7 linked regions of the Homo sapiens genome follow. The protein of the gene in region 2 purifies or fractionates together with the protein of the main gene of each other region. This does not show direct contact. Each region holds a gene or a part of one and is shown on either strand. Other genes may lie near its edges.

Region 1 (4,233 bases), on a different chromosome or scaffold from region 2:
TCCCCACCTTCCTGCCCACTGGAGAGGGGGCTGCAACACAGGACAAAAGGGTCTGTCCCTACTCATGGCCCTGATCCTCATCCACCATGTGACCTCTCAGTTACTCAGGGCCTCAGGCCCCTGGCTGAGAAAAGGTTGCCTGGACACTCCTGGCCCAGAAAGATTCAGCCCCTTGTAAATGAAGCAGTGAGCAGTCTCATGTGAGCGCAGGTATTATACATTGCTGTCCCAGAATCTGCTCACCCCAAGATGCAATAATGAGCTCAACTGACCTAACCTGTGAAAGACTGTGGGCCGAGTCCCCAACTCCCTACCACAGCCAGCAATACCACAGTGCCTCTTCCTCCAAGAAGGCTTCCTGGGCCACTTCCAGCCAAGGATAGAGCCCCTCACCCATGCTTTCTCAGAGCCTCAGACTTGGAGCCACCTCAGAGAACTGATCATGCTCTATCAGAAGAGGCTGCCCTTGCAGGTCTGAATCTCCATCTAGCTCATGGGTTCCTCAAGGGCAGGGGCCATGTGTACTCATGCTGCCCCGCCTGCAGCTCTGTGCCTGACACACTGCAAGTTCTCGATAAATGCTTGCTGAGTGAGTATAGGAATGAACACATGTATGCCTAAGATCCCTCTGTTGGGCTTGGAGGAAAGAGGGCCCATACTCTGTCACTCATATTGCTCAATCCTGGCCCAGGACATGATAAGTCCATGAACCATCATTAAGACATGGGGCAGAAACCCCAAAGGCATGACTAAAAATTTATCTGCCTCTTCCTTCCCGAGGACAGGCCTGACTCCAAGCCATTTGAATAACTTCACAGGGCTGCAGGGACCTCAAGGGTAAGAAGTCTCCCTAATTCCAAGCAGCACCCAACCAGTCCTGATGTTTAAAATCAGGTTCCACGGCCCTGGCTCCAAGCATCAGGCTTTGTGATCTAATCTGAGAGTGCCCAGGCTAGCTCAGAGCTGTCACTGCATTTACTTCCTCTAATTAACTGAAGTATCTCAGGACAGACCCTGAGAGCCTGGGTCCTGGAACGACTGCTGCTCCAACCACAGAAAGAATGTCAAGCTCTCAGCACTAGGTAAGCAAAGCACTCAGCCCTTGGCTGTCTGCCTGAGTGGCTGGCAGGGAGGCTTGGAGGGAGCAATCCCAGGGACCACTGCTCTGCGCCTCAGAATGCCCATCGCTTTGTGTGAACGGCTCACCTTTTTCCCCTGGTGCTTGCTTCTGCCGGCAGCCCCAGTGCGCACCCAGTTAGATGGGGACAGGCATGAAAGGCAGCGAGTGGGGTCCTGTGGGGTATGTGTCACCAGAGAAAAGCAGGCTCGGGACTGGTTAATGATGGCAGACCCTACAGCTATGAAGACTCTATAGAACATCTCCTAAAATGTCATGATTTTCAGAGAAATCAGAGGCCCAGAGAGGACAAGGGGCTTCCCAAGATCCCTCCATGAATGACTCCAATGACTTCCACTACTTCACATCACGACCACCTCACCAGCAGACACACACGAGTTAACTGCCCCTCACAAAGCTGCCAACTGATGTAACTGATGGCTACCAGCTGAAAGGAGAGCCAGCCTGGCTAGAAACCACAGATAGACAAAATGCCACGTTTTCTCACAGCTCTTTCTCTTCTCTACACTGCCTCAGGCTATTTTCCTACTACCGGCTCTCATTCCCCCAACCTGGAGCAATGTGAGGATTTTGAACTTCCCTCCTCACAGGGGCCCAGTCATGGCAGGGGCAAATCAATATCTGATAAGCAACCCAATCATCCAGTTGAAGCACTGATCAATGGCTGAATGAGTAACTGGAAATTCACGGGTCAGTGAAGGGCTGATCTGTGCACAAATCCAGGAGTGAAGGCTGCAGAGCTCCACGCAGGGGCCCCTACCAAGGGAGGTGGGCAGGGAAGCAAAGCAGCAAAGGTTACCCCAAGAAGGGTCTTAGGAGCCCAGAGCACGAAGGATGGGCTCTGAAGATCAGAAGGCAGCTCTAGCGCGGGCAGCACAGCCGGGACTCCGAGAACCCACAGGAGCAGGCTCCAGGAAAAGCCAGGGTGCAGGGGGTTCCACAGAAGTGCTCTGCGCGTCCCTTCCACTCGCTCCACCCCTTGACAGTCATCCAGATGCTGGAAAGACGAGCTTACCACTGGGACACTTGGGCATTCATTTCATATTAGGAAAAGGTAGTTAGGAAGCCCGGGAAACAGAGGAACATAAAGGGACAGCCCCCACTGGGCATTCGCTTGTGTCTGGCTCTGTGCAAGCAGCTTTTCAAACAGTCGACTCACCACGACCATGTGTGGCAACAAAGCTTTTGTGGCTTGCCGAGGCCTACAATTAAATGAGTAATATCAAGGGCTCCGTGCTTGTCACTGTGCTATACACAGTCCCTACCCGACAAGGACAGCTGAGGCGGCTCTTAATTCCTTCAAAAGTACACATAAACACTGTGTGAGAGGAGCATCCGCATGTAAACATGCAGCCTCTTGAACCCTCTGTTCAAGGGTGAGCTGCGGGGGCCACCCTGCCTTCTTCCCCATGTCGTCAGGCCACATTCACAAGACAAAGGGGACCCACAGGTTCTTCCTTCAAGGCTTCTAGTAAGGAGAATTCTTCCTTCCAGCTATATCTCCCATGGCTGGGGACCTGGAGGAGAAGCAGGATTGTCTGAAGTTTGACTAGAAATCAGACATCAGGGCCAAAATGACTCTGAAAGACCATCCAATACAACCTCCTTTTACAGGTGGGGAAACAGGTTCAGTCAGGGAAAGCAAATTTCTATGATCACCTGGAGGTAGCATCTTGGAGCAAAATGTTGAGAAGGAGTCTAAGACCAGGCAGGAAAGTCGTGCATGACTGAGGACTGGCTGACGATGGCTGCCTTGGATGGCAGTGGGGAAGGATGGCATCCCCGCCTCAGCTCAGCCAGGCCTTGGCCTCCACTCCTTCACAGGGAGTTGGTGCAAATTAGAAAAAGGTGCCCCATCTAAGCAGCATACAGCTTGACAAGCAGCAGGTGGCCGGATATCCATCCCTCCCCACTGGGGGCTAGAGTACAGGGCCAACTCACACGACATGCAATGCAGGTCTGAGTGTGGTGCCCTTGAGCTGCTCAACTTTTCTTCAGTCCCCCAACTACTGATTTGCCATCTGTTAACTTACAGAAATATTTCTTGATACCAAAGGAGGTCATAAGCCATCATCCTCTCTTTCACGCAGAGAAATCAGTTCTCCAGAGGGAAGGCATGCTAAAAGGTCAGCATGTGATGATGAAGAGATCCATTCATCCATGCCCAAAATCTTGTGCAAGGGGCCGTGCTGCCCCCACCACGCCCAGAGCCCTGTCTCTCTTTGCCTTCACAGTTTGTGTTCCTAAAGAGGCAGAGAGAAGAATATTCAACCAGGTAGACTCCAGGTTTTCCATATCATCACTGGGCGTGGAAACCTTCACGAGGCGGGTGAAAAGCCCACACCTGCATCTGTTTGTATGCACTTCACAGGTGTTCATACAGGCAACCAACCTCCCCAGACCTGTTTCTCATCCTGGAATCCCAATCGCAATAATGGTCAACAGCTCCCTAAACCAGAAAGCACCCTGAAGACCCCTGGATCCCCCTGCACCCCTACTCTAGAGGCCACCACGCATCTAAAGTCCCACTCCCACGCATCTCCCACTCTCCTCCCTCATTACTACCATCTTGGCTGAAATCACCTTCCCAACTGGCCTGTCTCCTCCAGCCTTCCTCGTCCCACCATGCTGCTTTCTGAAGGGCCTTTCAGAAGCATCCAAGGCTCCTTCCAGCCTTCAGAACAAGGCCAGCCTCCATCAAGTCTGCCTCAACTTGACCCTGTCACACATCAACCCCTACCACACACTTCAGCCAGGCCCAGCACACAGCGCCCCCTCATGCAGTGGCTATGTCACACCTCCATGCTGTGCTCACCACCTCCCTCGGCCAGAATGCCCTGTGCCGCACCAGTGGCCCAGTCCAACAGGTTATCCAGGCCCTGGTCCTCCAACCTGGCCAGACAAGCCAGCCAGGCGAGTCTGCAGAATGCAGGCTGAAGCCAGCCTTTCCCAGGTCCTTGTCAAGGAGAAAGGGGGCTGTGATTCGGGGACAATATGATATGGAAACCTGGTAGGGTGTCCTTCATACCAGGCCTTCTACCTGACTAGACCCTGTTCCGACTCCTGGCTCCAATTCTCCTCAATGGCAATGACCT
Region 2 (4,233 bases):
GAGCCCCCACTGTCCCTTCCCACCCTCCAGCCAGGCTCCAGGCCTCCTAGGGCCAGAGTATCTGAGCTTTCTCTCGCTTGCCGGGCCTGTGGTTTGGGGGTTTGTGTGGAGCCTGGTCCAGGAGCCCTCCTTCCTGATCTGCACTGGCTGGCCCTCCTGACAGCCCCAGGCCCCCGTGCCCTCTGCCAGGAGGTGCCTTGCCACTTGGCATGGCCCCAGTCACGGGTGGCACATCTGGGGTGAATGCACGTCAGTGGAGGCAGAATCATTCTGTCTGAATGAATGGAGTTTCCAGGCCCCCACTGGCCCTCTGTGTGAGGGTCTGCAGGGTTTGGCAGGACAGGTCTTTCTCTCCGGCGAGAGCACCCACCCTGACCGGCTGCTGGATGAGGGCACCAAAGCTCGCTAGGGAGGGCTCTGTCCTTAGGGAGGAGCTGCGGAATCCCTGCAGCTGTGCCCCCAGGCCCTGCCTTGCACACTTCCTGCAGCCAGGGCGCCCCTGGGGAGGTCAGGGCAGGCCGGGGAGGCTGAGGCCCACCTGCCATAGTGGGCAGGTGCGGGAGCCAGGGCGGCAGTGGCCTCGGGGCTGGGTGGGGCGCCTGGCCTCTGGTCTCTGGAGCAGTCAGGGGCTCTGCAGACGCTGAGAGGCCTGCTCATAGTGGACTGGGAGATGCTGGAGCAGCCTCAGAGCCATGGCCGGCCCACAGCGGGAGACGGCCCTGCTGCTGCCCCTCTGCCTGTGCGTGTGCACCTGTGGGCACCTGCGTGTGCTGGGGCAGGCAGGGCTGTATTGGGACCAGGTCCCGTAACAGCCTGCCTGCTTACCGTCTGCTCCCATCCCTGGGGAAAGCAAGGGAGCTCGGGGTCCTAGGACCTGACCTCAGCGCTCACCCCCACCAGCACCACAGTCACCAGGACTCTGTGACTCAGTTTACCCCACGAGAGCCCCTGGGATTCCCAGGGCATCAGAAGGCCCATCAGCCTCCCGTGAACTGCTGGGGTGGGCCTGGCCTTGGGACGCGGGTGCAGGGGCCTCTCCTCACTGCCCCATGGCACCCACAGCCAGTGCCAGAGCCTGCTGCAGCCCCGACCCGGCAGAGCAAGCGGCTCTGCTACCTCAGCCACGTAGCTGATGGCATCCTTCAGGTTCAGCTCGTGGAAGACATTCAGGATCCGGTCTCGAGACTTCTGGGCCGACCGTCTCATGAGGACCCTGCTGAGGAACTTCCTGTCGAAGTGGGACCACCTGTAGGGACAGACCTTGGGTGTGAGCCTCAGGTGACAGGCGCCCTAGAGCCCGCCGGACGCGTGGCCCGGCCCCTTCTCTCCTGAATTTTGTTTGCTATAGTGACCCTGTAGGCGCGTTTAAAATGAGGGAAGCAGCCCCTGCCACACGCCCAGGCCGTCCGCCGTTCTCCCGCCTGTCCTGTTGGATGGAGGCCGTTAGACGCATATGAAACTGCATGCCGCCTCCTCCAGAGGGTGGCTCAGGACACGGTGGGTGTCAGGCCTGGTCAGGCAAGGGGGCTTTGGCCACATGGGGGGCACCTTCAGGTGCACAGGAGGAAGGGCAGGGGCGGACAGACACCCTGAGCCCTTAGACTTGTGGGAGCCAAGCTGACCAGAGTGAGGTTTTTTTTAGCCTAACGGAATTAGAGTATTCGCTGGTTATCCAGATCAGAAGGGACGGTGGCCTGGCCGGACTTAGAGGAAACTCTGGGGCACAAGGAGGTGATGCCTGTCACTTGGACATGGGTGCAGCCGCCAGAGCCGCCCTCCAGGGCACAGGGTGGGCCCGGGTGAGCTTGTGTGCTCACACCTGGGCAGGCCCCGCGGCAGCAATGGCAGCTCTCCTGTACAGGCTGAGTTTCAGCCACACCAAGAAGTCAAAGCTAACCGAGGCTGTGCCTTCCGAGACCCCCGGGATGGCCCCTGGGAGGCCAAGGAGTCGGGGACTGGGTACCCGGAGCAGAGTCACTGTGGCCACGGAGAACCGCAGCTGAGCTTTATGAAGCCACGTGGCCACACCTCCCGGTGCCTCCACCCCAAGCAAACACAGATCGCTCAGAAAATGGGAACCCAGGGCAAATTGTATGTGCTCCTTACTGGGTTTATTATAAGTGTCACATGTTTTTTATAATAAAACATAGGTGATTTCACCTTAATGGACAAACTCTTTTTTTTATTTTGGGACGAAGTCTCGCTCTGTCACCAGGCTGGAATGTAATGGCGCAATCTCGGCTCACCGCAGCCTCCACCTCCCGGGTTCAAGCGATTCTTGTGCCTTAGCCTCCTGAGTAGCTGGGATTACAGGCCCACGCCACCACCCCTGGCTAATGTTTGTATTTTTAGTAGAGACGGGGTTTCACCATGTTGGCTAGGCTGGTCTCAAACTCCTGACCTCAAGTGAGCTGACCACCTCAGTCTCCCAAAGTGCTGGGATTACAGGCTTGAGCCCTGCCAGACAAAATCATTTTAAATGTTGACTGATACTAACCCTGTTTATGACGTGGAGGAAATAATCTATTTGCCTTATTTTCAATTCCTACATAACAATTTGGAATTAATTGGGCCACATGAGAGGGCATCTCTATTCCCTGGAAGGAGCACAGAGAATTCAGCTCCTGTCCCCTCACTCGGTGGCCCCAACTGCTGCCGCCAACTCCTTTCCGCAGCACCTGCGTGTCTCGGGGCACACCTGGCACCTGGCCTCATGGGGCACCGGAGCCCTGACCAAGCCTGGACTCAAACAGTTGTTATGCATGTGGCTTCTGGTTCTTCCGAGTGGAGGATGTTTCCAGAAGCCGGGCTGTGCGACACCGCCGGGGCCGTCCCAGCCACTTACTTGTCTCTGAGATAATTGTGCCCGATCTGTCCGGATATGTCCTCGATGGCCGAGAGGATGTGGTCGAAAGCCTTTCAAGGGAAGAAAGACATGAGCGTCTCGGGGCGGCCAACCGGGGAACATGAGGTGCCCCTCCACTCCTGGCCCAGCCCCGAGGAACCCACCAGCCCCCCTCACCACGCCCCTGGCCTGGACGCAGCCTCCTCTCCCCTCCTGGCCCAGCCCCAAGGAACACACGGTGCCCTCCGCCACCCCCCAAGCCCCAGACCAACGCAGCCTCCTCTCCCCTCTCAGCCCAGCCCCGAGGAACACGCAGTGCCCCCCCCCGCCCCCCAGCCCCGCACGTATGGCGGCCTCCTCTCCCCTCCTGGCCCAGCCCCAAGGAACACACGGTGCCCTCCGCCACCCCCCAAGCCCCAGACCAACGCAGCCTCCTCTCCCCTCTCAGCCCAGCCCCGAGGAACACGCAGTGCCCCCCCCCCGCCCCCCAGCCCCGCACTTACGCGCCCGTGCAGCTTCTCGTTGAGCCGAGGTTCCCGGTGCTCGCTCCTCTTCACCTTCAGCCACTGCACCAGAGGCTTGATGGTCAGGCCCTGGAGGACAGGGTCTCGTGACCCTGGTGCCAGGCAGCCCCCCACATCCCGCTGGCCCGGCCAGGTGCACCACACAGAGCCACCTGCCCCGGGGCCCACAGGCGCCCTCCCTGCTCTCCGGGCACCCAGCAACCCGCGCCCCTGCTTTGCAGAGGAGGAAGCAGCACCCGGGGCCTCATCCACCAGCGAAGGCCCGGGAAGAACATTTTTAGGACAATTATGCTTCCTCCCCAGTGGGGCCACGTGAAAACCTACAAAACGGCTCCTAGTTACTAAAATTATGAAACCCAATTAGGGTCTGGAGCCTGGAAATGCTTGTCCTGAAGTGCGGGCCCAGGCTCCCCTCGCGGGCGGGGCCGAGACCCCAGGGCTGGCTGGGCTGGGCCTCACCTGGAAGATGACGGTGAAGAACACTACGATGATGGTGGTGCTGACGAACAGGTTCTTCTCCTTGACCTTGTCTCCATCCAGAAGCACCACCAGGGCAAAGGCCACGGCCCCGCGCAGGCCCCCGTAGGACAGGACCACCTGGTCAATGGGCTCCAGCTGCACCATGCGGTAGCGGTTCAGAAGCCAGGTCTGCAGGACCACACCTGCGGATGATGGGGCGGGCACTCAGCTCCCCGGCCGCCCTCCCAGCCGCGGGACCCCAGCCCCTCCGGGACAGCGTCTTGGCGGCCAAGCATGTGCTGACGAAGAACAGCGGCACCCTAGATACGGCGTCCCCACGCCACGTCCCTCGTCACCATCCACCCGGAGCCACACGCGGCCTGGCGTCTCCCCCCCACGCTCCGT
Region 3 (4,233 bases), on a different chromosome or scaffold from region 2:
CGAGACCAGCCTAGCCAACATAGTGTAACCCTGTCTCTACTAAAAATACAAAAATTAGCCGGGCGTGGTGGCGGGCGCCTGTCATCCCAGCTGCTTGGGAGGCTGAGGCGGGATAATCGCTTGAACCTGGGAGGCGGAGGTTGCAGTGAGCCGAGATCGTGCCACTGCACTCCAGCCTGGGCAACAGAGCGAGACTCTGTCTCAAAAAATAAACAAAAACTACAGGATAAACTCTCACAGTGAGTGCCCAGGAGGGGACCCACACCTGGAAGGCTCACCTGCTTCACCTTGGCGAGTTCCCGGAGGAAGACATCATCACCCAGGAAGCTGTGGAGCTTCGTCAGCTGGCTCAGGTCTTTCACATAGTCTTCTCCAATTTTCTTTCAATTCAAAGGAAAAGATGACTTCAATTTGGGGATGGTAATCAAGTCCAAATGGGCAGTTTCTGTCAGTATTTCTCTCTGTCACCTACCACAGTGTAGTTCACGTATCACACAGAACATGGGATAGTTTGACTCAAAGAAGAGTCTATAAAGTCTATGTGAGAAGAACACTTTTGCTAGTATCTTAAATGTAGTTTCAGCAGTTTTTAAAAATTATTTTTATTTATTTATTTTTATTTATTTATTCATTTTTTTTGAGATGGAGTCTCGCTCTGTCGCCCAGGCTGGAGTACAGTGGCACGATCTCGGCTCACTGCAAGCTCCGCCTCCTGGGTTCATGCCATTCTCCTGCCTCAGCCTCCCCAGTAGCTGGGGCTACAGGCGCCTGCCACCACGCCTGGCTAATTTTTTTTTGTATTTTTAGTAGAGACGGGGTTTCACTGTGTTAGCCAGAATGGTCTCGATCTCCTGACCTTGTGATCTGCCCTCCTCGGCCTCCCAAAGTGCTGGGATTACACGTGTGAGCCACTGCACCCGGCCTAAAAATTATTTTTATTTTTATTTAATTTTTTTGGCGACAGGATCTCACCCTGTCACCCAGGCTGTAAAGCAATGTCGTGATCATAGCTCACTGCAGCCTTGACCTCCTGGGCTCAAGCAATCCTCTTGCCTCAGCCTCTGAGTAGCTAGGATTACAGGTGCATGCCACAACACCTGGCTAATCTTTTTATTTTTGTAGAGACGGGTGGTGGTGGTGGGGGTGGGTCTCATGTTGCCCAGGCTAGTTTCAAACTCCTGGCCTCAAGTGAGTCTCCTGCCTAGGCTTCTCAAAGCACTGGATTACATGCATGAGCCATCACACCCGGCCAGCTTCACTGGTATTAAAGTGTTAAAAACAGGAAATCTACTTATAAGAGTGACCAGGAACCCAGGTTCTGTTAGTTATTTATATGAGCTTTATTATCCTCTTTTACTAGAGAAAACCATCTTCTATGTGAGTGTCCTATGAATACTGTTAGCTGCAACTAGCTACATAATTTGCAGGACCTTTTGTTCAAAAATTAAGAATTTCAAGATGACGGCTATGTGTGATGGCTCATGCCTGTATTCCCAGCACTTTGGGAGGCCAAGGAGGAGCAGATAACCTGAGGTCAGGAGTTCAAGATCAGCCTGGCCAACATGGTAAAACCCTGTCTCTACTAAAAATACAAAAATTAGCTGGGCATTGTGATGTGTGCCTGTAATCCCTGCTACTCGGGAGGCTGAGGCAGGAGAATTGCTTGAACCCAGGAGGTGGAGGTTGCAGTCAGCAGAGATTGCACCACTGTACTCCAGCCTGGGTGATAGAGTGAAACTCTGTCTCAATAATAATAATAATAATAATAATAAATAATTTCAAGATGACTACAGCAGAGAATTAAACCCAGCATGGAGTCCTGTGTGACTGCACAAACCACATGCTGAGGAAGCCAGCCCTGCTGCAGACTGGATTTATAAGTTACAAGTATAGTCATATGCCTCTTGCATTCGAGTCAGGCCTCCTTTCCTCTCAGCACTTCCCAGTTACCTCTGCTATGAGCTCTGCAAGTCCTGGGTTGCAGAGTAGGAGCCAGCGCCTTGGAGTGATCCCATTGGTTTTATTCTGAAACTTGTCAGGTTCTAGCTCACTGAAGTCCTTGAATCTGGAGATGGAGGAGACACATCACTGAATTTGGCTGAAACGGCAAAGGGTCCTGCACACTGGACAAAGTTCGGAGTTATATTCAAGAAGCCAAGTGCAGGCTTAGAAAGGTTAAATAAAGGTGGAGGGACAGGCTGACAGTAGCTATGGCTGTCATTTAAATAGAAATTCATTTGCAACTCAAAAGAATTACCAGAAAAATTCCAAATCTAGTCACTTCCATCTGACTTCTTCACACTGACATATATACTACACTTTCAGTAGAATAGTTTTTGGTATTTTGTTTGTTTGTTTGTTTTGGCTCCTATGTCTAGAATTAAGATGGCTCTGAGAGGAAAGCATTCTTTTCTTTCCTTTTCTTTTCTTTTTTTTTTTTAGGCAAGAGTTTTTTGTATAGAAGAAAATACTTTTAAACATTTGAACAAGGCCTTTCCTCATCCCTAAGTGCAACCCTGCATTTAGTAGCATCATTCCATTAATGGATCAGTGTCAGACCCACTGCCAGAGTAATGGAGGCTCACACTTTAGTCTTCACGATGTCTGAGTGGATTTTAGCCACGCCATTCACAGCATGGGAACCGACAATGCAGAGATGGGCCATGTTGATCCTTTTGCTTCCTTCCTCTTCTATCAGAGACATCCTTCTCAGACGGTCCACATCTTTAGGAAACAAGGCCACAATTCTCTAGCCAAAGGAAGAGAAAGCCCTTGCTGGTCACTCAGGTTTAATGCAACATTGGGATAACGCTGTTCATGTCTTAAGCAAAATCTTTGGTGTACTCAATATAAACTTCACTACCACAGGGAGGGGTTGAGTTAGCTCTATGGAGGTGCCATCCCTCCATTTCAGCACTTTCAAAAAGCTGCCTTTGTTGGAGCCCCGTTCGGACTTGAGTACTTTTGCTGTATCAATGATTGAAAGATGTTTGGTAAGAGGGAACACTGTAGCCATCTGTAACACCTTAAGATCTTATGCTCATGAACAGAGAAAATCTCTCAAAATGACTTACATCTAAATGCTTCTGATTTATCTCATAAATGATTTCCAAATGTCGAGGGAGCAGCTTCTCCACCAGGTCCACGGGCCAGCGCTCCAGGGCTTCCGGGAGCACTGTGTGGTTGGTGTAGGCGAAGGTCTTCTGGGTGAGCTCCCATGCCTGGGGGAAAGGAAGGAGTCAGCTGCTTGCCCTGAAGGTGGGCACCCCACTGCACGGGCCAAACCCTTCTTCAACCCTGCCCTGTCTGCAACAGGACCATTCCAAGTGTGCATAGTCAGAGCACTCAATTCCACTAAGTTCCTGAATAGTCCAGATAATAGAAACATGTTCTGGGTGTGAGGGGGAAGCCATTTGTAAAGCTACTGGTGAAACTTAAGACAGCATTCTGATCAATCTATCTACTATCCTTATGTGTCTTTCACTTATTAAATACACAGATTGAGGGATAAAAACGTAAATAGTGCTCTCAGCAAGTACAAAGTATGTAAAATGCTGACTTCTAAAGCTATGGGGACACTCAATTAGCTGTCTTCTGAGGTTAGATAATTTAATTTTTAATCTTTTTCAACACAAAAATGGTAAACACAATATAAGCCTTAATATAGCTATTGATTTGTGTCCCATTAGGAATGTGCTCATTTATTTTATAGTCTTACTCCCTATAAAACTCTAAGGATGGAAAATGTCAGCGTCAGGGAAAATATACCTTTAACTGTTGAAAGTTAGCAACAATAACTTACTTTGAAAAACTAAAAAGGGAGTTTTTGGCAGTCTTTCAACTGCAGCCATTCTGGTTAATTAAAGGAAAAAGAAGCCAAACTATCCAGACCTTGGACCAGGGCAGTTTTTCAATATCCACAAAAATCCTCATCAGCTCAGGGATCGCGAGTGCAGGGTGAGTGTCATTCAGCTGGATGGCCACCTGGGTGGGGAAAGACATCAACATGAAGGCAACGGATGGCTCAGGGTCTGGCTTCTTTGTCCTAACACATCTGGAGAAAGCACTGATATGCCCACCTTCTATGAAAGACTTGATGCACACTATTCCTGCTCAACGTTGTTAGCACTGAGAGAGAGGAATTAATCTGATAGGAAATCCCAGTCAATCCCTCAGTGGACCCTAACTGCATCCACAGACTAAATACTTGCCTGATCCGGGAAGGCATCAAAC
Region 4 (4,233 bases), on a different chromosome or scaffold from region 2:
TCCAGCCTGGCCAACAGAGTGAGATTCCATCTTAAAAAAAAAAAAATAGATGCTGTGTGGAACCAGTGGATTCAACGCAAGGGCTCTGGGTCCCGCAATCCGGTAGAGTGCACACAACCCAACAGTGAACAGGTTCGTTGCAGGGTAGAGGCCCTGGGCAGTAATCCTGTGCAGTGCACGAATGCAATGTCAGATACTGTGCAGTGGTGCTGCCTTTGCAAACCTAAGCCAGTCCTGAAGCCCAAGAAAGTGGTCCCAAGCTGTACTATAGATATAGACTCCCTGAGTCATGTGCAACGTGGGGCAGTGAGGACACTCAATGCAAAGATGTTGTTCACGTAGGGCTGACAACAAAAACCTGGAAAAGGACGCCAGCCTACAGATACCATGGTGGTAGGAGCGTGAAAGGCCAGGACACCATAGGGGCAGCGTTTCAGCAGCAGTGGTGCAGTGCAAGGGCTGGGCCATGAGGCACATATCCAGTGCAGCAAAGCAGTGCACATGCACAGAAGTGCTATATGGGGCAAAGTGCACTGTTGGTACAATGCAACTGTGGAATGCAGAGGGGCCATGCCCAGAAACTCAGGAAAAGTTCACAGTCCTGATGCAATACTGACGTCCATGCAATAGTGCAGTGCAGTACAGAGATGCTGTGTGATGCCAAGATGCAATGTTGTGGTAGCATGCCATCTGTTGGCACGGTGCAGTGCTGCAATGCGAGGAGCTATGCCCAAACCCCAAAAGAGTCCATGTGCCCAATGCAATGTAGACTGCCTGGTGAGGCAATGGGGTGCAGAATATAAATGCTCTATGACACAAACATGCAATGTGGCCACAGAAAACCATGTGTTGATCTCAGACAGTGGTGCAGTGTGAGCAGCTCCGCCCAGAAACCCAGGAGAATTCACCTTCCCAATGCAACACTGACATCCAGCAGAGTGACACAGTATACAAGAGAGCAGCAAAGACACACACATGGCAGGACCATGGCAGGATCATGGCAGGATGGAGGCACGGTCCAATGGGACAATGCAGAGGCAGAGCATGCAGAAACTCAGGAGAACGCACACCCTCAATGCAATGCAGCAATCCCAGTGAAGTAGAGGGCTGAGACACAGGGCTGTGCAAGGAGGCTGGACCCAGGAATCCCAGACAGTGCACATCCAGAGCAGTCCAGAGCCTGGCACGCTGCAACAGTGTTGCTGGGAGGGTCATGATGCCTCCCTGTGATGCACTGGAGGAGAGGGGAGCTCAGATCCCTGGAAAACTCTCTACCTACAGCTCTGCCCGGCCACGCTGGCTCACCCCACAAGTTGGGGGCCGAAATCTCATCTGGCTTGTCTCCCTCCCTCCAACATCTTCCACCCCAGTGACTCTCCAAGGGCAAAGGCTGAAGCCACTGCCACCCACAGGATAGGCCATCTAGAATCGAGCACATTGTCCAGGTATTATAACTGAGCAGAATCCCAGCATGCTGGCAGGAAAACAATGAATTCAAATTCTGCTGGTAAAGCTCTCAGACAATTAAAGTACAGCCCCTGGCCCCCAGCCCAGGGCAGGACAGAGGAGAGATAGAGAGAAAGACCTATTATTGGATAAGGCCCTGGGACAGGGTGAGCAGGAAGTAGGATGAACAAGAGGTTAGGATGTCAGAGAAGAGCCAGACTCAATCAACCTGGCTAGGCACTCCCCAACCACCACCCCCGTCCCCACCACTATTACTCCCTCCCAGGCCTGGACTTCATCAGAAACCAAGAACAAACTTTTCTGGGCACACAGGATGACCGCACGCATGCAAATACACACATCATAACAGTGATCACTTACACAGTGCTTACTATGTGCAGGACCTGTTCTAACCTACATAATCATAACCATAAAACATATCCTCATGACAAACGCATGCAGTGTGTCCTATTATTATCCCCATTCCACAAATGAGAACTCTAAGGGCCCAGAGAGGTCAGTAACTTACCAAAGTATCACACAGCTAGAAGTGGTGGGCTTAGGATTAGAACCCAGATGGTCTGGGCCCTGAACCCATGCTCTTAACCACCACACGCTAGACAAACACATATTGACAGGCATGCCCAGCCACAAGTCCACATGCACGCTCCTGTAAACACACATACATACACATTCTAAGCAATGTATTTCCCACTCTCAGCTGAGACTCACCTGTCCTATCCACTAGGTTTCTGATAGCTCCCAGTTGTCACCTCTTATCTCCACCTCTTATCTTATCACCCACATCTCCTTGTTCTATCATCCACCTGTCCCCCAACCCTCAGTTGTTCCCCCAATACCGCCTGTCCCTTCACTGTCAGCTGTCCCATCCCCCAGGTATATCTTTCCCACCAGCTATCTTCTATCCGCCAGTGGTCCCCCAGGCCTCAGCTGTCACCCACCACAGTGGACATCTGACAGTGTGCTGCGGTTTTCCGTCTCCTTTTTCCACTAGTCTGGGAGCCCCCGGGGGCTGAGCTGTCACCCCACCCCTAGCTTTAATCTTGCCCTGTCAAATATCCTCAGCATCTCCCCTTCCTAACAGCCCCATCTCAATCTTTCTCCCCAGCTTCTGCCCTCAAACTCCCAAGCCTCAGCGGCCCTCCAAGCCCCCTTTCTCCTTGTCCCTTCTGAGTCATCACAAGGTCTTGTGGTTTGCATCTTGGGAATCTGCCCAAGACCTCCTGCGTCATCTGGAAGCAGCATCTTCTGAGCTGTCCCCCTCAGGGGTCCTCCCACAGTCATTCTGCAGGAAATGGCAGCCCCCAACCCAGAGCCAGAGGAGGAGGCATAGCCAGCCCACCCATGACTGTGCTGCAGAACCCCAGCTCCTGCATTCACCCCTCCAAGCCTTCCCTGTGCACCCAGAGGCATCGAGATGCAGCCACTTAGTGGGCATCTCCCACGTATAGGCCCTGGGGACCACAGATGACAAAGACACAGCTCAGCCCCTGGGGGCTCCCAGCCTAGTGGAAAAAGGAGATGGAAAACCGCAGCACATTGTCAGACGTCCACTATGGGAGAAATTTCACCAACTGCACCGGGAGAGGGCTGGGAAGGCTTCGCTGCATCAGTGACAATGGAGCTGAACTGTGAAGGCTGAACAAGTAGGTAGATCCCCCACCCCCACCACGAGGTGAGAAGTAGGGAGGGGCACAGTGTGTGCAAAGGTAGAGAGGTGTGAACTGGCATGGCAGGCTCCTGGATCAGCAATTTGCCTGGTGATTTGGAGCAGACAGCGGATAGGCAGGAGTGGGATCAGGGAAGAAAGGCATCATGTGAAGCTGCTTCAGAAAGAAAGGGCTGGTCATGCAGGGCCTCATGTGCTATGCTAGGGTTTGGGTTTTGTCCCCTGAGTTCTGGGGAGCCTTCAGCTTGGGACAAAGGAGTGGCAGCATCCTATGTCTGCCTTAGAAGCTTATTCCAGCCACAGGGTGGTGGAAGCATTAGAAACCAAAAGCCTGGGCCGGGCCCGGGGGCTCATGCCTCTAATCCCAGTACTTTGGGAGGCCGAGTCAGGCAGGTCATGAGGTCAGGAGATGGAGACCATCCTGGCTAACACAGTGAAACCCCGTCTTTATTAAAAATACAAAAAATTAGCCGAGCGTGGTGGCACGCGCCTGTAGTCCCAGCTACTTGGGAGGCTGAGGCTGAAGAATTGCTTGAACCCAGGAGGCAGAGGTTGCAGTGAGCCAAGATGGTGCCCCTGCACTCCAGCCTGGGTGACAGAGTGAGACTCCATCTCAAAAAAAAAAAAAGAAACCGAGAGCGTGATGGCAGGCAGAGTAGAGGCCAAGAAGGCTACCAGGCTACTGCAATAGTCCAGGCAAGATCTAATAAGGCTGCAGAGAAGGGGCCTGGATTGAACAAAACCTTTTGTCAAGAGCCACTGAGTCATGGTCCATCCAGACCAATTCCCCTCCCAGAGATGCCCAGGACTCACTGAAGGTGCTGCAGGCCGCCTCATGCCTCTAGACCAGTGCTGTCTGCAGAACTTTCTGAGAGGATGGAAATGTTCTCTGCCTGCATTAACCAGTACAATGAGAGCCACTAGCAACATATGACTCTTGAGGACTTGAAATCTGACTAGTGCAACTGAGGGATTGAATTTTTATTTTAATTAATTTAAATGTAATACCCATACATGACTCAGGAGCCACCGTATTGGAGAATGCAGGTAGAGGACAATTTCCATCACCACAGAAGGTTCTATTAGATAACACAGCT
Region 5 (2,985 bases), on a different chromosome or scaffold from region 2:
CTGTGGGGGCTGTGGGGTTGGGGGGCTGTGGGAGGCTATGGGGCTTCCTGGGGTGCCTGTGGGGGCTGTAGGGCTGGGAGGCTGGGGGGCTGGGGCTCTGGCTGGGCGGCGCAGGGCTCCGGGCCACCGGCCTGTCCCACCAGGTTTGGAGATGGCTACATGATCACGGTGCGGACCAAGAGCAGCCAGAGTGTGAAGGACGTGGTGCGGTTCTTCAACCGCAACTTCCCGGAAGCCATGCTCAAGGTGCGCCGTCCCGGGCAGGGTTGTGGAGGGGGCGCTACGGGGTGGGGGGGCGCTGCCAGGCCTCTGACCTCCCCCCCTGCAGGAGCGGCACCACACAAAGGTGCAGTACCAGCTCAAGTCGGAGCACATCTCGCTGGCCCAGGTGTTCAGCAAGATGGAGCAGGTGTCTGGCGTGCTGGGCATCGAGGACTACTCGGTCAGCCAGACCACACTGGACAATGTGAGCGCCCCAAGGGCACTGCGCACCACACCTGCCCCTCCCCTCACCCGCCCTGCCCCTCCTCACCCCAGACCAGCCCCCTCCCCACACGCCTGCGCCACCCACCAGGTGTTCGTGAACTTTGCCAAGAAGCAGAGTGACAACCTGGAGCAGCAGGAGACGGAGCCGCCATCCGCACTGCAGTCCCCTCTCGGCTGCTTGCTCAGCCTGCTCCGGCCCCGGTCTGCCCCCACGGAGCTCCGGGCACTTGTGGCAGACGAGCCCGAGGACCTGGACACGGAGGACGAGGGCCTCATCAGCTTCGAGGAGGAGCGGGTGAGCAGGCTGCTCTCATGGCTGTCCAGGGCTCTGCCCACTGGACCCAGGCTGCCTGGTGGCTCCAGCCGCGGGTGGGGTCGGGGGAGAACTGGCCCCAGGATGCTTGCTGTCCAGAGGTCAAGGGGGCAGAGTGGGCGAGGGACACTTGCAGATAGGCCTGGAGAGACGTAACTGCATGGTCCAGACTTGCTAGAGTCTTTGAGGGGCACAGAGCAAGGGTGGGGCAGAGGGGACCAGAGCCGGGGAACAGGGGACCGATGTAGACTCAGTGGCCCCCAGACTCGGCAGACGGAGGCCCGGGAGAGCCCAGACACAGAGGGAGCTCGTGGGGAGACCCTGCGTCCAGGCCCAGCCTGCAGGAGGGCCGGGGCGGGCCAGCACAAGTGTCCTCAGCCCCAGCAGGGGGTGGCACAGGATGCCCCATAAGCCTGACCTCCCCTGTGCACAGGCCCAGCTGTCCTTCAACACGGACACGCTCTGCTGACCACCCAGAGCTGGGCCAGGGAGGACACGCTCCACTGACCACCCAGAGCTGGGCCAGGGACTCAACAATGGGGACAGAAGTCCCCCAGTGCCTGCCAGGGCCTGGAGTGGAGGTTCAGGACCAAGGGGCTTCTGGTCCTCCAGCCCCTGTACTCGGCCATGCCCTGTGGTCACTGCGGTTGCCGCCCCTAATTGTGCCAAAGGCTGACCCGGCCCGGGCTGCGTACACCCTTGCCCTGCTTTGCCTTAAAGCCTCGGGGTCTGCCCGGCCCCTCGCCCCTGCCTGGCACTGCTCACCGCCCAAGGCGACGCCGGCTGGACCAGGCACTGCTGGCCTTTCTCCTGCCCGGCCTCGGAACCAGCTTTTCTCTCTTACGATGAAGGCTGATGCCGAGAGCGGGCTGTGGGCGGAGCTGGGTCAGTCCCGTATTTATTTTGCTTTGAGAAGAGGCTCCTCTGGCCCTGCTCTCCTGCAGGGAGGTGGCTGTCCTGCGGGAAGCCATCAGCTTGGGCCAGCTGGCAGGTGGCAGGAATGGAGAAGCTGACCCTGCTGGCCAGGCAAGGGGCCAGACCCCCCCCAACCCCCAGCTGCCATCGCTCTCCCACCCAGCTTGGCCCCCTGCCCGCCCACCTCCCTGGGAGCCGGGCCTGTACATAGCGCACAGATGTTTGTTTTAAATAAATAAACAAAATGTCTGCGGGTCTGCGTGTGTGGGTTGGGAAGGGTGGGGAGGATGGGCGCATCAGGTGGGTTAGCGCTCCAGAAGGCCCTGCCCCTCAGGCACAGGTGCTGGCAGGGGGTGGCTGGGTCGGTCTGGAGGAGGGAAACTGAGGCAGGGTGGTTCACCATGGTTCACTGTCCCCCTCATCCCACCCTCAGGGGTTGCTCCCGGCCCCCTTCCCCTTAGCCTTCATCTTCCCGTCCACCTGCCCTCTCTAAGCCTCCTTCACCCCTTGCTGCCCACGTGGGGCCTGCAGCAGCCTGGGCTAGGCTGTCTCCGTGTCATGGAAGGGACAGCGAGGGCTTCCAGGAAGAGGCGACCTCCAGGAGGAGACCGAAGTCTGTGAAGATTCCTTAAGGGAAGGGCATCCCAGCCAGAGGGCAGGGCACAGGCCAAGGCCCCAGGGAGGCAGGACCTGGAAGCTTTGAGGCTCATCAGCGGTGGAGCCTGGCACACTGTGGGCAGGAGATGGGGGAGGGGCATGAATGGCCCCCAGAGCTCACGCCCCGTGATCTGGGCCAAGTTCAGACTCTTGCCTTAGGCCGTTTCAAGGCTCCTCAGGAGGGTAGAGGGTGGACTCACTGAGGGCTGGTGCCACATGGGGGACAACAGGGGAGGGGCCCATGGGCTTGAGGGCACTGGGTGGGCTGGGCCAACACATCCACTTGGGTTCCTATGAGGCACTCACTGTGACCACCTGAGAGGCAGTGGGATGACCATGCTGGAGTCCCTGAGAGGCTGGGTCACTGGGGTGAAGCTGTCCTGGGCCCTGGGGGCGGTTCACTCTGGAAGAACCGAGAGGAACAGTGGCTCACTGGAGGGGCTGGTGTGGGTTTGGTGGTCGGCCAAGGGAAATGCGTGGGGGAGCCGCCAGAAGGCAGGAGGCCGCAGCAGCCTCCGTCCTGCAACTGTAGGGGCTGAATCATGGCAGAAAGAGGTCGAGAAAGGAACACGGCCCAGCCGAGGCCCAGGGAGACCCTGCGCGCAGGACCAGGC
Region 6 (4,233 bases), on a different chromosome or scaffold from region 2:
GGCTTGGGCTGGGAGGTGCCAGGGTCCATATTCCTGTTCCTGGGCATGGCCCCATTGCTAAGGCTTTGCGGGCAAGATGTAGAATGGGATGGCAGGCGTCTCCCTCATCTCCTAAAGTCCCTAAAGCCCAGGAGGCTTGCCTTTATGGTTTTTATTGGGGAGCATCCTCTCTACTCCTGGATCCATTTCCTGGCCCCTTCAGCATTGCCCCCCAACTCCCGTTCCTCTGGCAGGAGCTCCTCGACAGCACCTTCTCTTGGTACCATGGAGCTTTGACGTTCCCTCTGATGCCCAGCCAGGAGGACAAGGAGGATGAGGACGAGGATGAAGAATGCCCAGCAGGAAAAGCAAAAAGGAAAAGCCCTGAAGAAGAAAGCCGGCCTCCACCTGACCTGGCCCGACATGATGTCATCAAGGTAAAGGGACAGCTTCTTTCCCATCCCATGGCCCAGGGGACAAGCACATGCTGGAAAGAGGGGCCATCAATGCCCAGGGTCCAGCTGCATTTGTCAGTGGGTTTCTCTCTCCAACTCCCAGGGGCTCCTGGCTACCAGCCTGCTGCCTCGGCTGCGCTACGTGCTGGAGGTGACATACCCAGGACCTGCGGTGGTCCTTGACATCCTGGCTGTGCTCATCCGCCTGGCCCGGCATTCCCTGGAATCAGCCACAAGGGTGAGAAAAAAGGGAGCAGGGAATGGGCAAAAAGCCTAGCTGGGCCTTGTCTTGACCCACAGCCTCCCTTCCTCCCTTTTACCTCCTGTCTCCCATAGGTCCTGGAGTGCCCTCGGCTGATAGAGACTATAGTTCGAGAGTTCTTGCCCACCAGTTGGTCTCCTGTGGGGGCAGGGCCTACCCCTAGTCTATACAAAGTACCCTGTGCTACTGCCATGAAACTACTTCGTGTCCTGGCCTCAGCTGGGAGGAATATTGCTGCCCGGCTGGTGAGCAGGACACAGGGCAAGGGATGGGGGAATGCATGGGACAGGGTTGGGTTGGGAGCTAAACATGGCTCCTGAACTCTGGGTGGCCAGCTCTTGCCATCTTCTTCCTCTCTGATCCAGTTGCTTAGAAATGCAACAGAAATCACCAGGCATGAACCTGTTTACTGGAGCCTGTTTACTGGAGCCTGGTGCATCATATAGGTATACTGTGGTCTCATGATGTAATAGGAGGTCTCCCTGTTCCCTAGACCCAGATCAGAAGGGCTTCATGCACATAGGCATTCATCATCTATAGCCAAGTAGCCCTAGAGAAGGTGCCCAGCAAGCCTTGCTATAAAGAGGGAGGGCTGGGTGTAGTGGCTCAGGCCTGTAATCCCAGCACTTTGGGAGGCCAAGGCAGGAGGATCACTTGGGGCCAAGAGTTCAGGGGCCAGCCTGGACAACATAGCAAGACTCTGTCTCTACAAAAAACAAAAACAAAAAATTAGCTAGATGTGGTAGCACATGACTGTAGTCTCAGCTACTCGGTAGGCTGAGGTAGAAGGATCACTTGAGCTGGGAGGTGGAGGCTGCAGTGGGCTGGTTGCACCAATCACTGCACTACAGCCTAGGCAACAGGGCGAGACCCCGTCTCAAAAATACTACTACTGGCCAGGTGCAGTGGCTCACGCCTGTAATCACAACACTTTGGGAGACCGAGGTGGTGGATCACTTGAGGTCAGGAGTTCGAGACCAGCCTGGCCAATATGGCAAAACCCCACCTCTACTAAAACTACAAAAATTAGCCAGGTATAATAGTGTGCGCCTGTAGTCCCAGCTACTTGGGAGGCTGAGGCAGGAGAATTGCTTGAACCCGGGAGATGGAGGGTGGAGTGAGCCAAGATCACACCACTGCATTCCAGCCTGGGTGGCAGAGCAAGATTCCATCTAAAAACAAATAATAGGGCCGGGCGCGGTGGCTCACACCTGTAATCCCAGCACTTTGGGAGGCCAAGGCAGGTGGATCATGAGGTCAGGAGTTCAAGACCAGCCTGACCAAGATGGTGAAACCCTGTCTCTACTAAAAATACAAAAAATTAGCCAGGCGTGGTGGCATGCGCCTGTAATCCCGGCTACTCCAGAGGCTGAGGCAGAGAATTGCTTAAACCTGGAGGGGCAGAGATTGCAGTGAGCCGAGATTGCGCCACTGCACTCCAGCCTGGGCGACAGAGCGAGACTCCATCTAAAAAAATAATAATAATAAAAATAAAAAAATAATAGGGGCTGGGTGCGGTGGCTCACACCTGTAATCCCAACGTTTTGGAAGGCCGAGGTGGGTGAATCACGAGGTCAGCAGTTCGACACCAGCCTGGCCAACATAATGAAACCCCGTCTCTACTAAAAATACAAAAATTAGTCGGGCATGGTGGCGCATGCCTGTAGTCCCAGCTACTTGGGAGGCTGAGGCAGGAGAGTCTCTTGAACCTGGGAGACAGAAGTTGTGGTGAGCCAAGATCACTCCACTGCACTCCAGCCAGGGCAACAGAGCAAGACTCCATCTCAAAATAATAATAAATAATAAAAAGTAAAATAATAAAATTGAAATTTTAAATAAATAATAAGAAGGAAGGGCAGGGTGGATGAGGTATGACTTTGTGGCACCAGAGGGGCCTGGGTCAGGGTTGAGTTAAGCCACTCTCTGTCCAGCTGAGAGTAGCTGGACTTGAGACTCACAGCTGACCCTGATCCTCAGACTGTGCCCATTTCCAGTTGAGCAGCTTTGATCTCCGGAGCCGCCTGTGCCGCATCATAGCTGAGGCTCCCCAAGAACTGGCCTTGCCCCCAGAGGAAGCTGAGATGCTGAGCACCGAGGCCCTCCGTCTGTGGGCTGTGGCTGCCTCCTATGGCCAGGGCGGTTACCTTTACAGGTGAGGAGAGGCAGGGGGTAGGCTCCCCCTAGACACCTTCAGTTCTGCTCTTCTGGCCAAATCAAACACCTCAGCCTTGCTCAAGGTCCCAAGCTTGGAGGAAGGATAAGAATGAGTGGGAGGGCTTCTGCCAGATGTGAAAAGGCTTAGGAGTCAGGCCCAGCCAGGGAAGAGGGGGATAAACCTGGCTTAACCGTATTCTATGCTCAAAATCATTAGCCGGGCACTGTGGCTCATGCCTGTAATCCCAGCACTTTGGGATGCCAAGGTAGGCGTATCACGAAGTCAGGAGTTCGAGACCATCCTGGCCAATATGGTGAAACCCCGTCTCTATTAAAAATACAAAAATTAGCCAGGCGTGGTGGCACACACCTGTAATCCCAACTACTCGGCAGGCTGAGGCAGGAGAACCGGTTTAACCTGGGAGGCAGAGGTTGCAGTGAGCCGAGATCACTCCATCACTCCACTGCACTCCAGCCTGGGCAACAGAGAATGTCTCAAAAAAAAAAAAAAAAAAGCATTGGTATCTGTGAAATCACATTTAAATTCCCTGTTGGGGGCAGCCTTGAAGGACAACATCCTTTCCATTCTTTAGGGCTGAGCCTTCCAAGAGTGCCCCACTCTTCCTCCTCATCCTCCTTTATCAAACTGCAGATCCCTGGGTCAGGGCCATGACCTGTGTCTCATGTCTCCACTTGCTTTCATACAGTGAAAATCAGTCCCTGTTCTTCCCTAGGGAGCTCTACCCAGTGCTGATGCGGGCCTTGCAGGTGGTGCCGCGGGAGCTCAGCACCCACCCACCTCAACCCCTGTCCATGCAGCGGATAGCCTCACTGCTCACTCTCCTCACCCAGCTAACCCTGGCAGCCGGCAGTACCCCTGCTGAAACCATCAGGTAGTTTATAGCCAGGACCCACAGGACAGGTGGAGGGCTCCTCCACAGGGCTGGGGTGGCTGGAGTGTAAAGGGGCGTGAGGCAGCCAGATCCTCACTGTGGCACCCTTTGGCACTTTTGTAGTGATTCTGCTGAGGCCAGCCTCTCGGCCACCCCTTCCTTAGTCACTTGGACACAGGTGTCTGGGCTCCAGCCTCTTGTTGAGCCGTGTCTAAGGCAGACCTTGAAGTTGCTGTCCAGACCTGAGATGTGGAGAGCCGTGGGCCCAGTGCCCGTTGCCTGCCTGTTGTTCCTGGGAGCCTACTACCAGGCCTGGAGCCAGCAAGTGAGTGCCTCCTGCCGGCTGTCCACCAGGCCCCCGCACCCTGCCTTCAGCTACATTCCACCCGTTGCTCCCTCTCTGTGTCCATCTCTCCACTCCTACTTCCCCATTTACTATCTTCCCTTTTAATTCCTACCCTTCCTCCTCTTTCTACCTCCATATCCCCGT
Region 7 (4,233 bases), on a different chromosome or scaffold from region 2:
CCCGGGTTCATGCCATTCTCCTGCCTCAGCCTCCCGAGTAGCTGGGACTACAGGCGCCCACCACCACACCTGGCTAATTTTTTGTGTATTTAGTAGAGAGGGGGTTTCACTGTGTTATCCAGGATGGTCTTGATCACCTGACCTCGTGATCCGCCTGCCTCAGCTTCCCAAAGTGCTGTGATTACAGGCGTCAGCCACTGCGCCTGGCCCTACCCAAGGAATTTTAACTGAATACATAGTTATGTTCAAAGCCTTCTGCTACAAGACTATAAATATAAATTGAAATTTCAGGTTTTTAAAACATTTTTCCTATGACCATAGGTCTAAATATTAATTTTTTTCCTTCTGAATTAAGTTATCAATTCAGGCCAGGCGTGGTGGCTCATGCCTGTAATACCAGCACTCTGAGAGGCTGAGGCCGGCGGATAACCTGAGGTTAGGAGTTCAAGACCAGCCTGGCCAACATGGTGAAACCTCATCTCTACTAAAAATACAAAAATTAGCCGGGCGTGATTGTGTGCACCTGCCATCCCAGCTACTCAGGAAGCTGAGGCAGGAGAATCACTTGAACCCAGGAGGGGGAGGTTGCAGTAGGCCGAGATCACACCACTGCACTCCAGCCTGGGCAACAGAGTGAGACACTGTTTCCAAAAACAAAAAAAGTTATCAATACAATTTGTATTAGTACAGTCGAATCCCTGAGAGATTGGTTCCAGGACGTCTCAAGAATATCAAATTCTGAAGATGCTCAAGTCCCTGATATAAAATGGTATATAGTATTTGCATATAACCTATGCACATCCTCCTGTATACTTTAAATCATCTCTAGGTTACTAATAATACCTAATACAATGTGAATGCTATGTAAATAGTTTTTATACTGTATTAAGGAATAATGACAAGAAAAAGTCTGTACATATTCAGTACAGATACTTTTTTTTTCTGTATTTTCGATCCACAGTTTGTTGAATCCACGAATGCAGAAGTCACAGATACAGAGGGCCGACTGCATACAATTGATCAAACCAACAAGTTTTACAAATTTTGATAGGTAATTAAACACAGAAAGTAAAATCTTATTGAAAATGCATCCTTTAATGAGATGAACAGAGCTATTTTCCCCCCAACTGGTTGATGTGAACATTACCCACTACTAGAATGAGACAGGTTTTTTATCAACTTAATCCTTTCCTTTTTAACTTTTTTAAATGTAAGTACTGAAAAAGCTTGTAAGTACTGAAACAGCTTTATTACAGCACTATCCGTATATTCTCTAAACTACCTCAGTGTTTCATCTAAAAATCACACAGTGAGCCATCATTAAAAGTAACTTGAATGATCTATCAGTTGTCAAATTCATTGGGTCCTCCTTCAATTTTACTAAAAGGAACGATCTGAAAACCACCAAAGTTACTAAAGAATTTGTCATCCAATCAGAGTGGATCACTTTTTCCTAACAAACACCAATATTTCAAATTGCCTCTTTGCCCAAGATGAAGCCAACAGCAGGATTGGGGCTGGGTGGAAGATACAGCTTTCTTTTGTAACGTGGAGAAAAGAGATTGTGAAAGCAGAGGTGGAAAATGGTAACTTACAACTCAGATCAGCTTTAGGAGATACCTACACCCTGGGGGTCTGGAAGCGTAGTCCTTGCAAGTTATCCTCCCACTTATACACCACTTAGAGTGTCTTCGTGTACCTCTAAGGGACCCAGTTTGACAAGTGACCAAGACTGCCCCATGGTATTCTCTTAAAAATGGAATTCACAGGACCGAGTGCGGTGGCTCATGTCTGTAATCCCAGCACTATGGGAGGCGAAGTCGGGCGGATCACTTGAGGTCAGGAGTTTGAGACCAGCCTGGCTAGCATGGAGAAACCCTGTCTCTACTAAAAATACAAAAATTAGCCAGGCATGTTGACACACGCCTGTAATCCCAGCTACTTGAGAGGCTGAGGCAGGAGAATTGCTTGAACCCAGGAGGCGGAGGTTGCAGTGAACCAGGATCATACCACTGTATTCCAGTCCCCTGGTTAAAATTCTTTAACAATTCACACCACACTTAAAAACAAAACTCAAATTCCTTACTGCGACTTCTAAAGGACTACATACCTTATCTCACCATCCTACAAACCACACTGGCCTTCTCCAAGTTCCTGGATTGCCGGCAGGGCTTCCAGCCTTAGGGCCTTTGCACCTCCATTCCCTCTGACCAAAGCACTGTTCCCGCTGCTGTGTGGCTGCTCCTGTTTCCTCCAGGCTTCAGCTGGAATGTCACCTCCCAAAAGGAGCCCATCCACCTCATTATTCTCTACTACAGGAAACTAATTCTTGATAGCTCTTGTCATAAGCATAATTATTTTACTTACAGTAAAGTCTTACTTGCCCACTACACGAAACAGAGGTCTTGTTTGTGTTTCATGTTCAGCACCCAGCACGGTGCCTGGCACTCAATAGATGTTTATAAACAAGAGGGAGGGCACAAGCACATCATGGAAAAAGTGAAATTGGTGAGTGGCGAAGGAGGGGCTATTTCTAACAGCTTTCTAAACAACCTTATTTTAAAACAAAATCGTATTAATGTATTAGAAGGTATAGATACGACAAATGCCAAAGAGAAAGGTGTATTACAGATACTACTAAATACATAAACATGGACATATACTGAGACTTCAGAGAGCACCCAAAGTGGGCAGGGACATTCAGCATGCAGGTTTCCACCCCCATTTTTTCCTTACCTCTGTTCTTGAGAAGGCTCCTCCAGACCCTCTTCAGAATCACCCTATTGAAAAAGAACATGTGTTAACCGTTGTTTCTGTTTGTTCGTTTGTTTTTGAGACAGAGTCTCGCTCTGTCACCCAGGCTGGAGTACAATGGCAGGGTCTCGGCTCACTGCAACCTCCGCCTCCTGGGTTCAAGCAATTCTCCTGCCTCAGCCTCCCAAGTAGCTGGGACTATAGGCACATGCCACCACACCTGGCTAATTTTTGTATTTTTAGTAGAAACAGGGTTTCACTGTGTTGGCCAGGCTGTTCTCAAACTCCTGACCTTGTGATCCACCCGCCTCGGCCTCCCAAAGTGCTGGGATTACAGGCGTGAGCCACTGTGCCCGGCCACCCCTGGGCAAATCTTATAGTCATCTTGCACTGCTCTCCTCCCTTCACCTCCTACCAGAAAGACCTACCCACTCACGGGAAACCCAGTTCCTACCTGTCCTTTCTTCCAACACAGCAGCCCACACCATCAGTAGCCCCGGCTGTATTAGAAGACAAACGCAGCTTTCTTCTCTGCCTGCAGACTGCTGCCTGCAACCATCCGGTGCACCATCGCACTCTGTGCAGCAAAGACCAGTCTCCTCATATCATTCACTCCTTATCACCCTTATCACACAGTAAGGACCCAGCACTCAATGTCATCACTTCAGTCCCTGCTCAAGAACCTACTATGGCTCCCTCCAACTGGTCAGATGCACACCAAGCTCTTCAACAGCATACAGCACTGTCCCACACAGGCCCTGACACACCCAGCCCTACCCCTACAACCACATTGCGGCAAGCACCTGGGCTCCAATTTAAAATGTCCGAGGGAAAATGCTGAACTTAACTGTCTACCAGGCGAGGCTCTGGGCTAGGCCCCAGGCACACACTTGCTGCTGCAGATCTCTAAGGCCTCCCTTGTCCCTAAGCCTTAGCTGACCTCTCCAAAGCAGGGTGCCTCTTCTCTCAGTTCCTATATTTCAGCACTTGACTGTGGTCCCAGGGTATTACCAGTCTGATCTTGCCAACCACAAAGGGCAGGGACAAAAGCATGTAATTCCCCCACTGCCTCTTGGGAAGTGCCTCAGGGCCTTTGCACTGGCTGTTCTCTCTCACCACTTTCAAAGATTGGCTCAAATATTGCCCTTTCAGAGTGGTACACTTTGACCTCTTAAAACCGCAACTCACATCACCACCCCACATTGCCACCACACAACATGTATGCCCTTCGAACAGACTAAATAAATTTATTCTCTGTCTTGTTTACTGTCTATCTCTCTGCTTCCATTTAGACTGCAAGCATCACAAGGGCAGGTGTTTTTTGTTTTTTTTTGTCTACTGTAATATCCCTGACACCTAAAGCACTGCTTGGCCTGCAGTATGTGCTCAATAAAACATCTGCAGAGCTGAGTACAAGCCAGCTGTTTCTTAACTACATGTGGATATGACTATTATGGGAACTTCACTAAGCAACTTTTT

What was found.
Region 1: the proteins of SLC9A3 (region 2) and ESYT3 purify together in Homo sapiens (affinity purification with mass spectrometry; one large-scale study listed by BioGRID and IntAct). This does not show direct contact.
Region 3: the proteins of SLC9A3 (region 2) and PYGL purify together in Homo sapiens (affinity purification with mass spectrometry; one large-scale study listed by BioGRID and IntAct). This does not show direct contact.
Region 4: the proteins of SLC9A3 (region 2) and PTPRU purify together in Homo sapiens (affinity purification with mass spectrometry; one large-scale study listed by BioGRID and IntAct). This does not show direct contact.
Region 5: the proteins of SLC9A3 (region 2) and ABCA2 purify together in Homo sapiens (affinity purification with mass spectrometry; one large-scale study listed by BioGRID and IntAct). This does not show direct contact.
Region 6: the proteins of SLC9A3 (region 2) and RPAP1 purify together in Homo sapiens (affinity purification with mass spectrometry; one large-scale study listed by BioGRID and IntAct). This does not show direct contact.
Region 7: the proteins of SLC9A3 (region 2) and TMEM131L purify together in Homo sapiens (affinity purification with mass spectrometry; one large-scale study listed by BioGRID and IntAct). This does not show direct contact.

The regions. Positions count from the first base shown.
Region 1 is NC_000003.12:138,437,198-138,441,430, reverse strand, and holds part of ESYT3 (extended synaptotagmin-3), read right to left. Parts: intron 1-4,233. UniProt on the Homo sapiens protein: Binds glycerophospholipids in a barrel-like domain and may play a role in cellular lipid transport. Tethers the endoplasmic reticulum to the cell membrane and promotes the formation of appositions between the endoplasmic reticulum and the cell membrane.
Region 2 is NC_000005.10:478,720-482,952, forward strand, and holds part of SLC9A3 (sodium/hydrogen exchanger 3 isoform 1 precursor), read right to left. Parts: intron 4,032-4,233; coding exon 3,829-4,031; intron 3,439-3,828; coding exon 3,349-3,438; intron 2,917-3,348; coding exon 2,846-2,916; intron 2,174-2,845; exon of another isoform or gene 1,643-2,173; intron 1,498-1,642; exon of another isoform or gene 1,247-1,497; coding exon 1,117-1,246; exon of another isoform or gene 1,063-1,116; intron 1-1,062. UniProt on the Homo sapiens protein: Plasma membrane Na(+)/H(+) antiporter. Exchanges intracellular H(+) ions for extracellular Na(+) in 1:1 stoichiometry, playing a key role in salt and fluid absorption and pH homeostasis.
Region 3 is NC_000014.9:50,912,751-50,916,983, forward strand, and holds part of PYGL (glycogen phosphorylase, liver form), read right to left. Parts: coding exon 4,212-4,233; intron 3,985-4,211; coding exon 3,892-3,984; intron 3,222-3,891; coding exon 3,075-3,221; intron 2,750-3,074; coding exon 2,586-2,749; intron 2,066-2,585; coding exon 1,951-2,065; intron 381-1,950; coding exon 279-380; intron 1-278. UniProt on the Homo sapiens protein: Allosteric enzyme that catalyzes the rate-limiting step in glycogen catabolism, the phosphorolytic cleavage of glycogen to produce glucose-1-phosphate, and plays a central role in maintaining cellular and organismal glucose homeostasis.
Region 4 is NC_000001.11:29,242,434-29,246,666, reverse strand, and holds part of PTPRU (receptor-type tyrosine-protein phosphatase U isoform 1 precursor), read right to left. Parts: intron 1-4,233.
Region 5 is NC_000009.12:137,006,212-137,009,196, reverse strand, and holds the end of ABCA2 (ATP-binding cassette sub-family A member 2), read left to right. Parts: intron 1-143; coding exon 144-246; intron 247-328; coding exon 329-466; intron 467-574; coding exon 575-781; intron 782-1,232; coding exon 1,233-1,268; 3' UTR 1,269-1,963; downstream 1,964-2,985. UniProt on the Homo sapiens protein: Probable lipid transporter that modulates cholesterol sequestration in the late endosome/lysosome by regulating the intracellular sphingolipid metabolism, in turn participates in cholesterol homeostasis.
Region 6 is NC_000015.10:41,523,606-41,527,838, reverse strand, and holds part of RPAP1 (RNA polymerase II-associated protein 1), read left to right. Parts: intron 1-233; coding exon 234-416; intron 417-537; coding exon 538-672; intron 673-770; coding exon 771-941; intron 942-2,690; coding exon 2,691-2,848; intron 2,849-3,584; coding exon 3,585-3,743; intron 3,744-3,866; coding exon 3,867-4,068; intron 4,069-4,233. UniProt on the Homo sapiens protein: Forms an interface between the RNA polymerase II enzyme and chaperone/scaffolding protein, suggesting that it is required to connect RNA polymerase II to regulators of protein complex formation.
Region 7 is NC_000004.12:153,472,392-153,476,624, reverse strand, and holds part of TMEM131L (transmembrane protein 131-like isoform 1 precursor), read right to left. Parts: intron 2,781-4,233; coding exon 2,737-2,780; intron 1-2,736.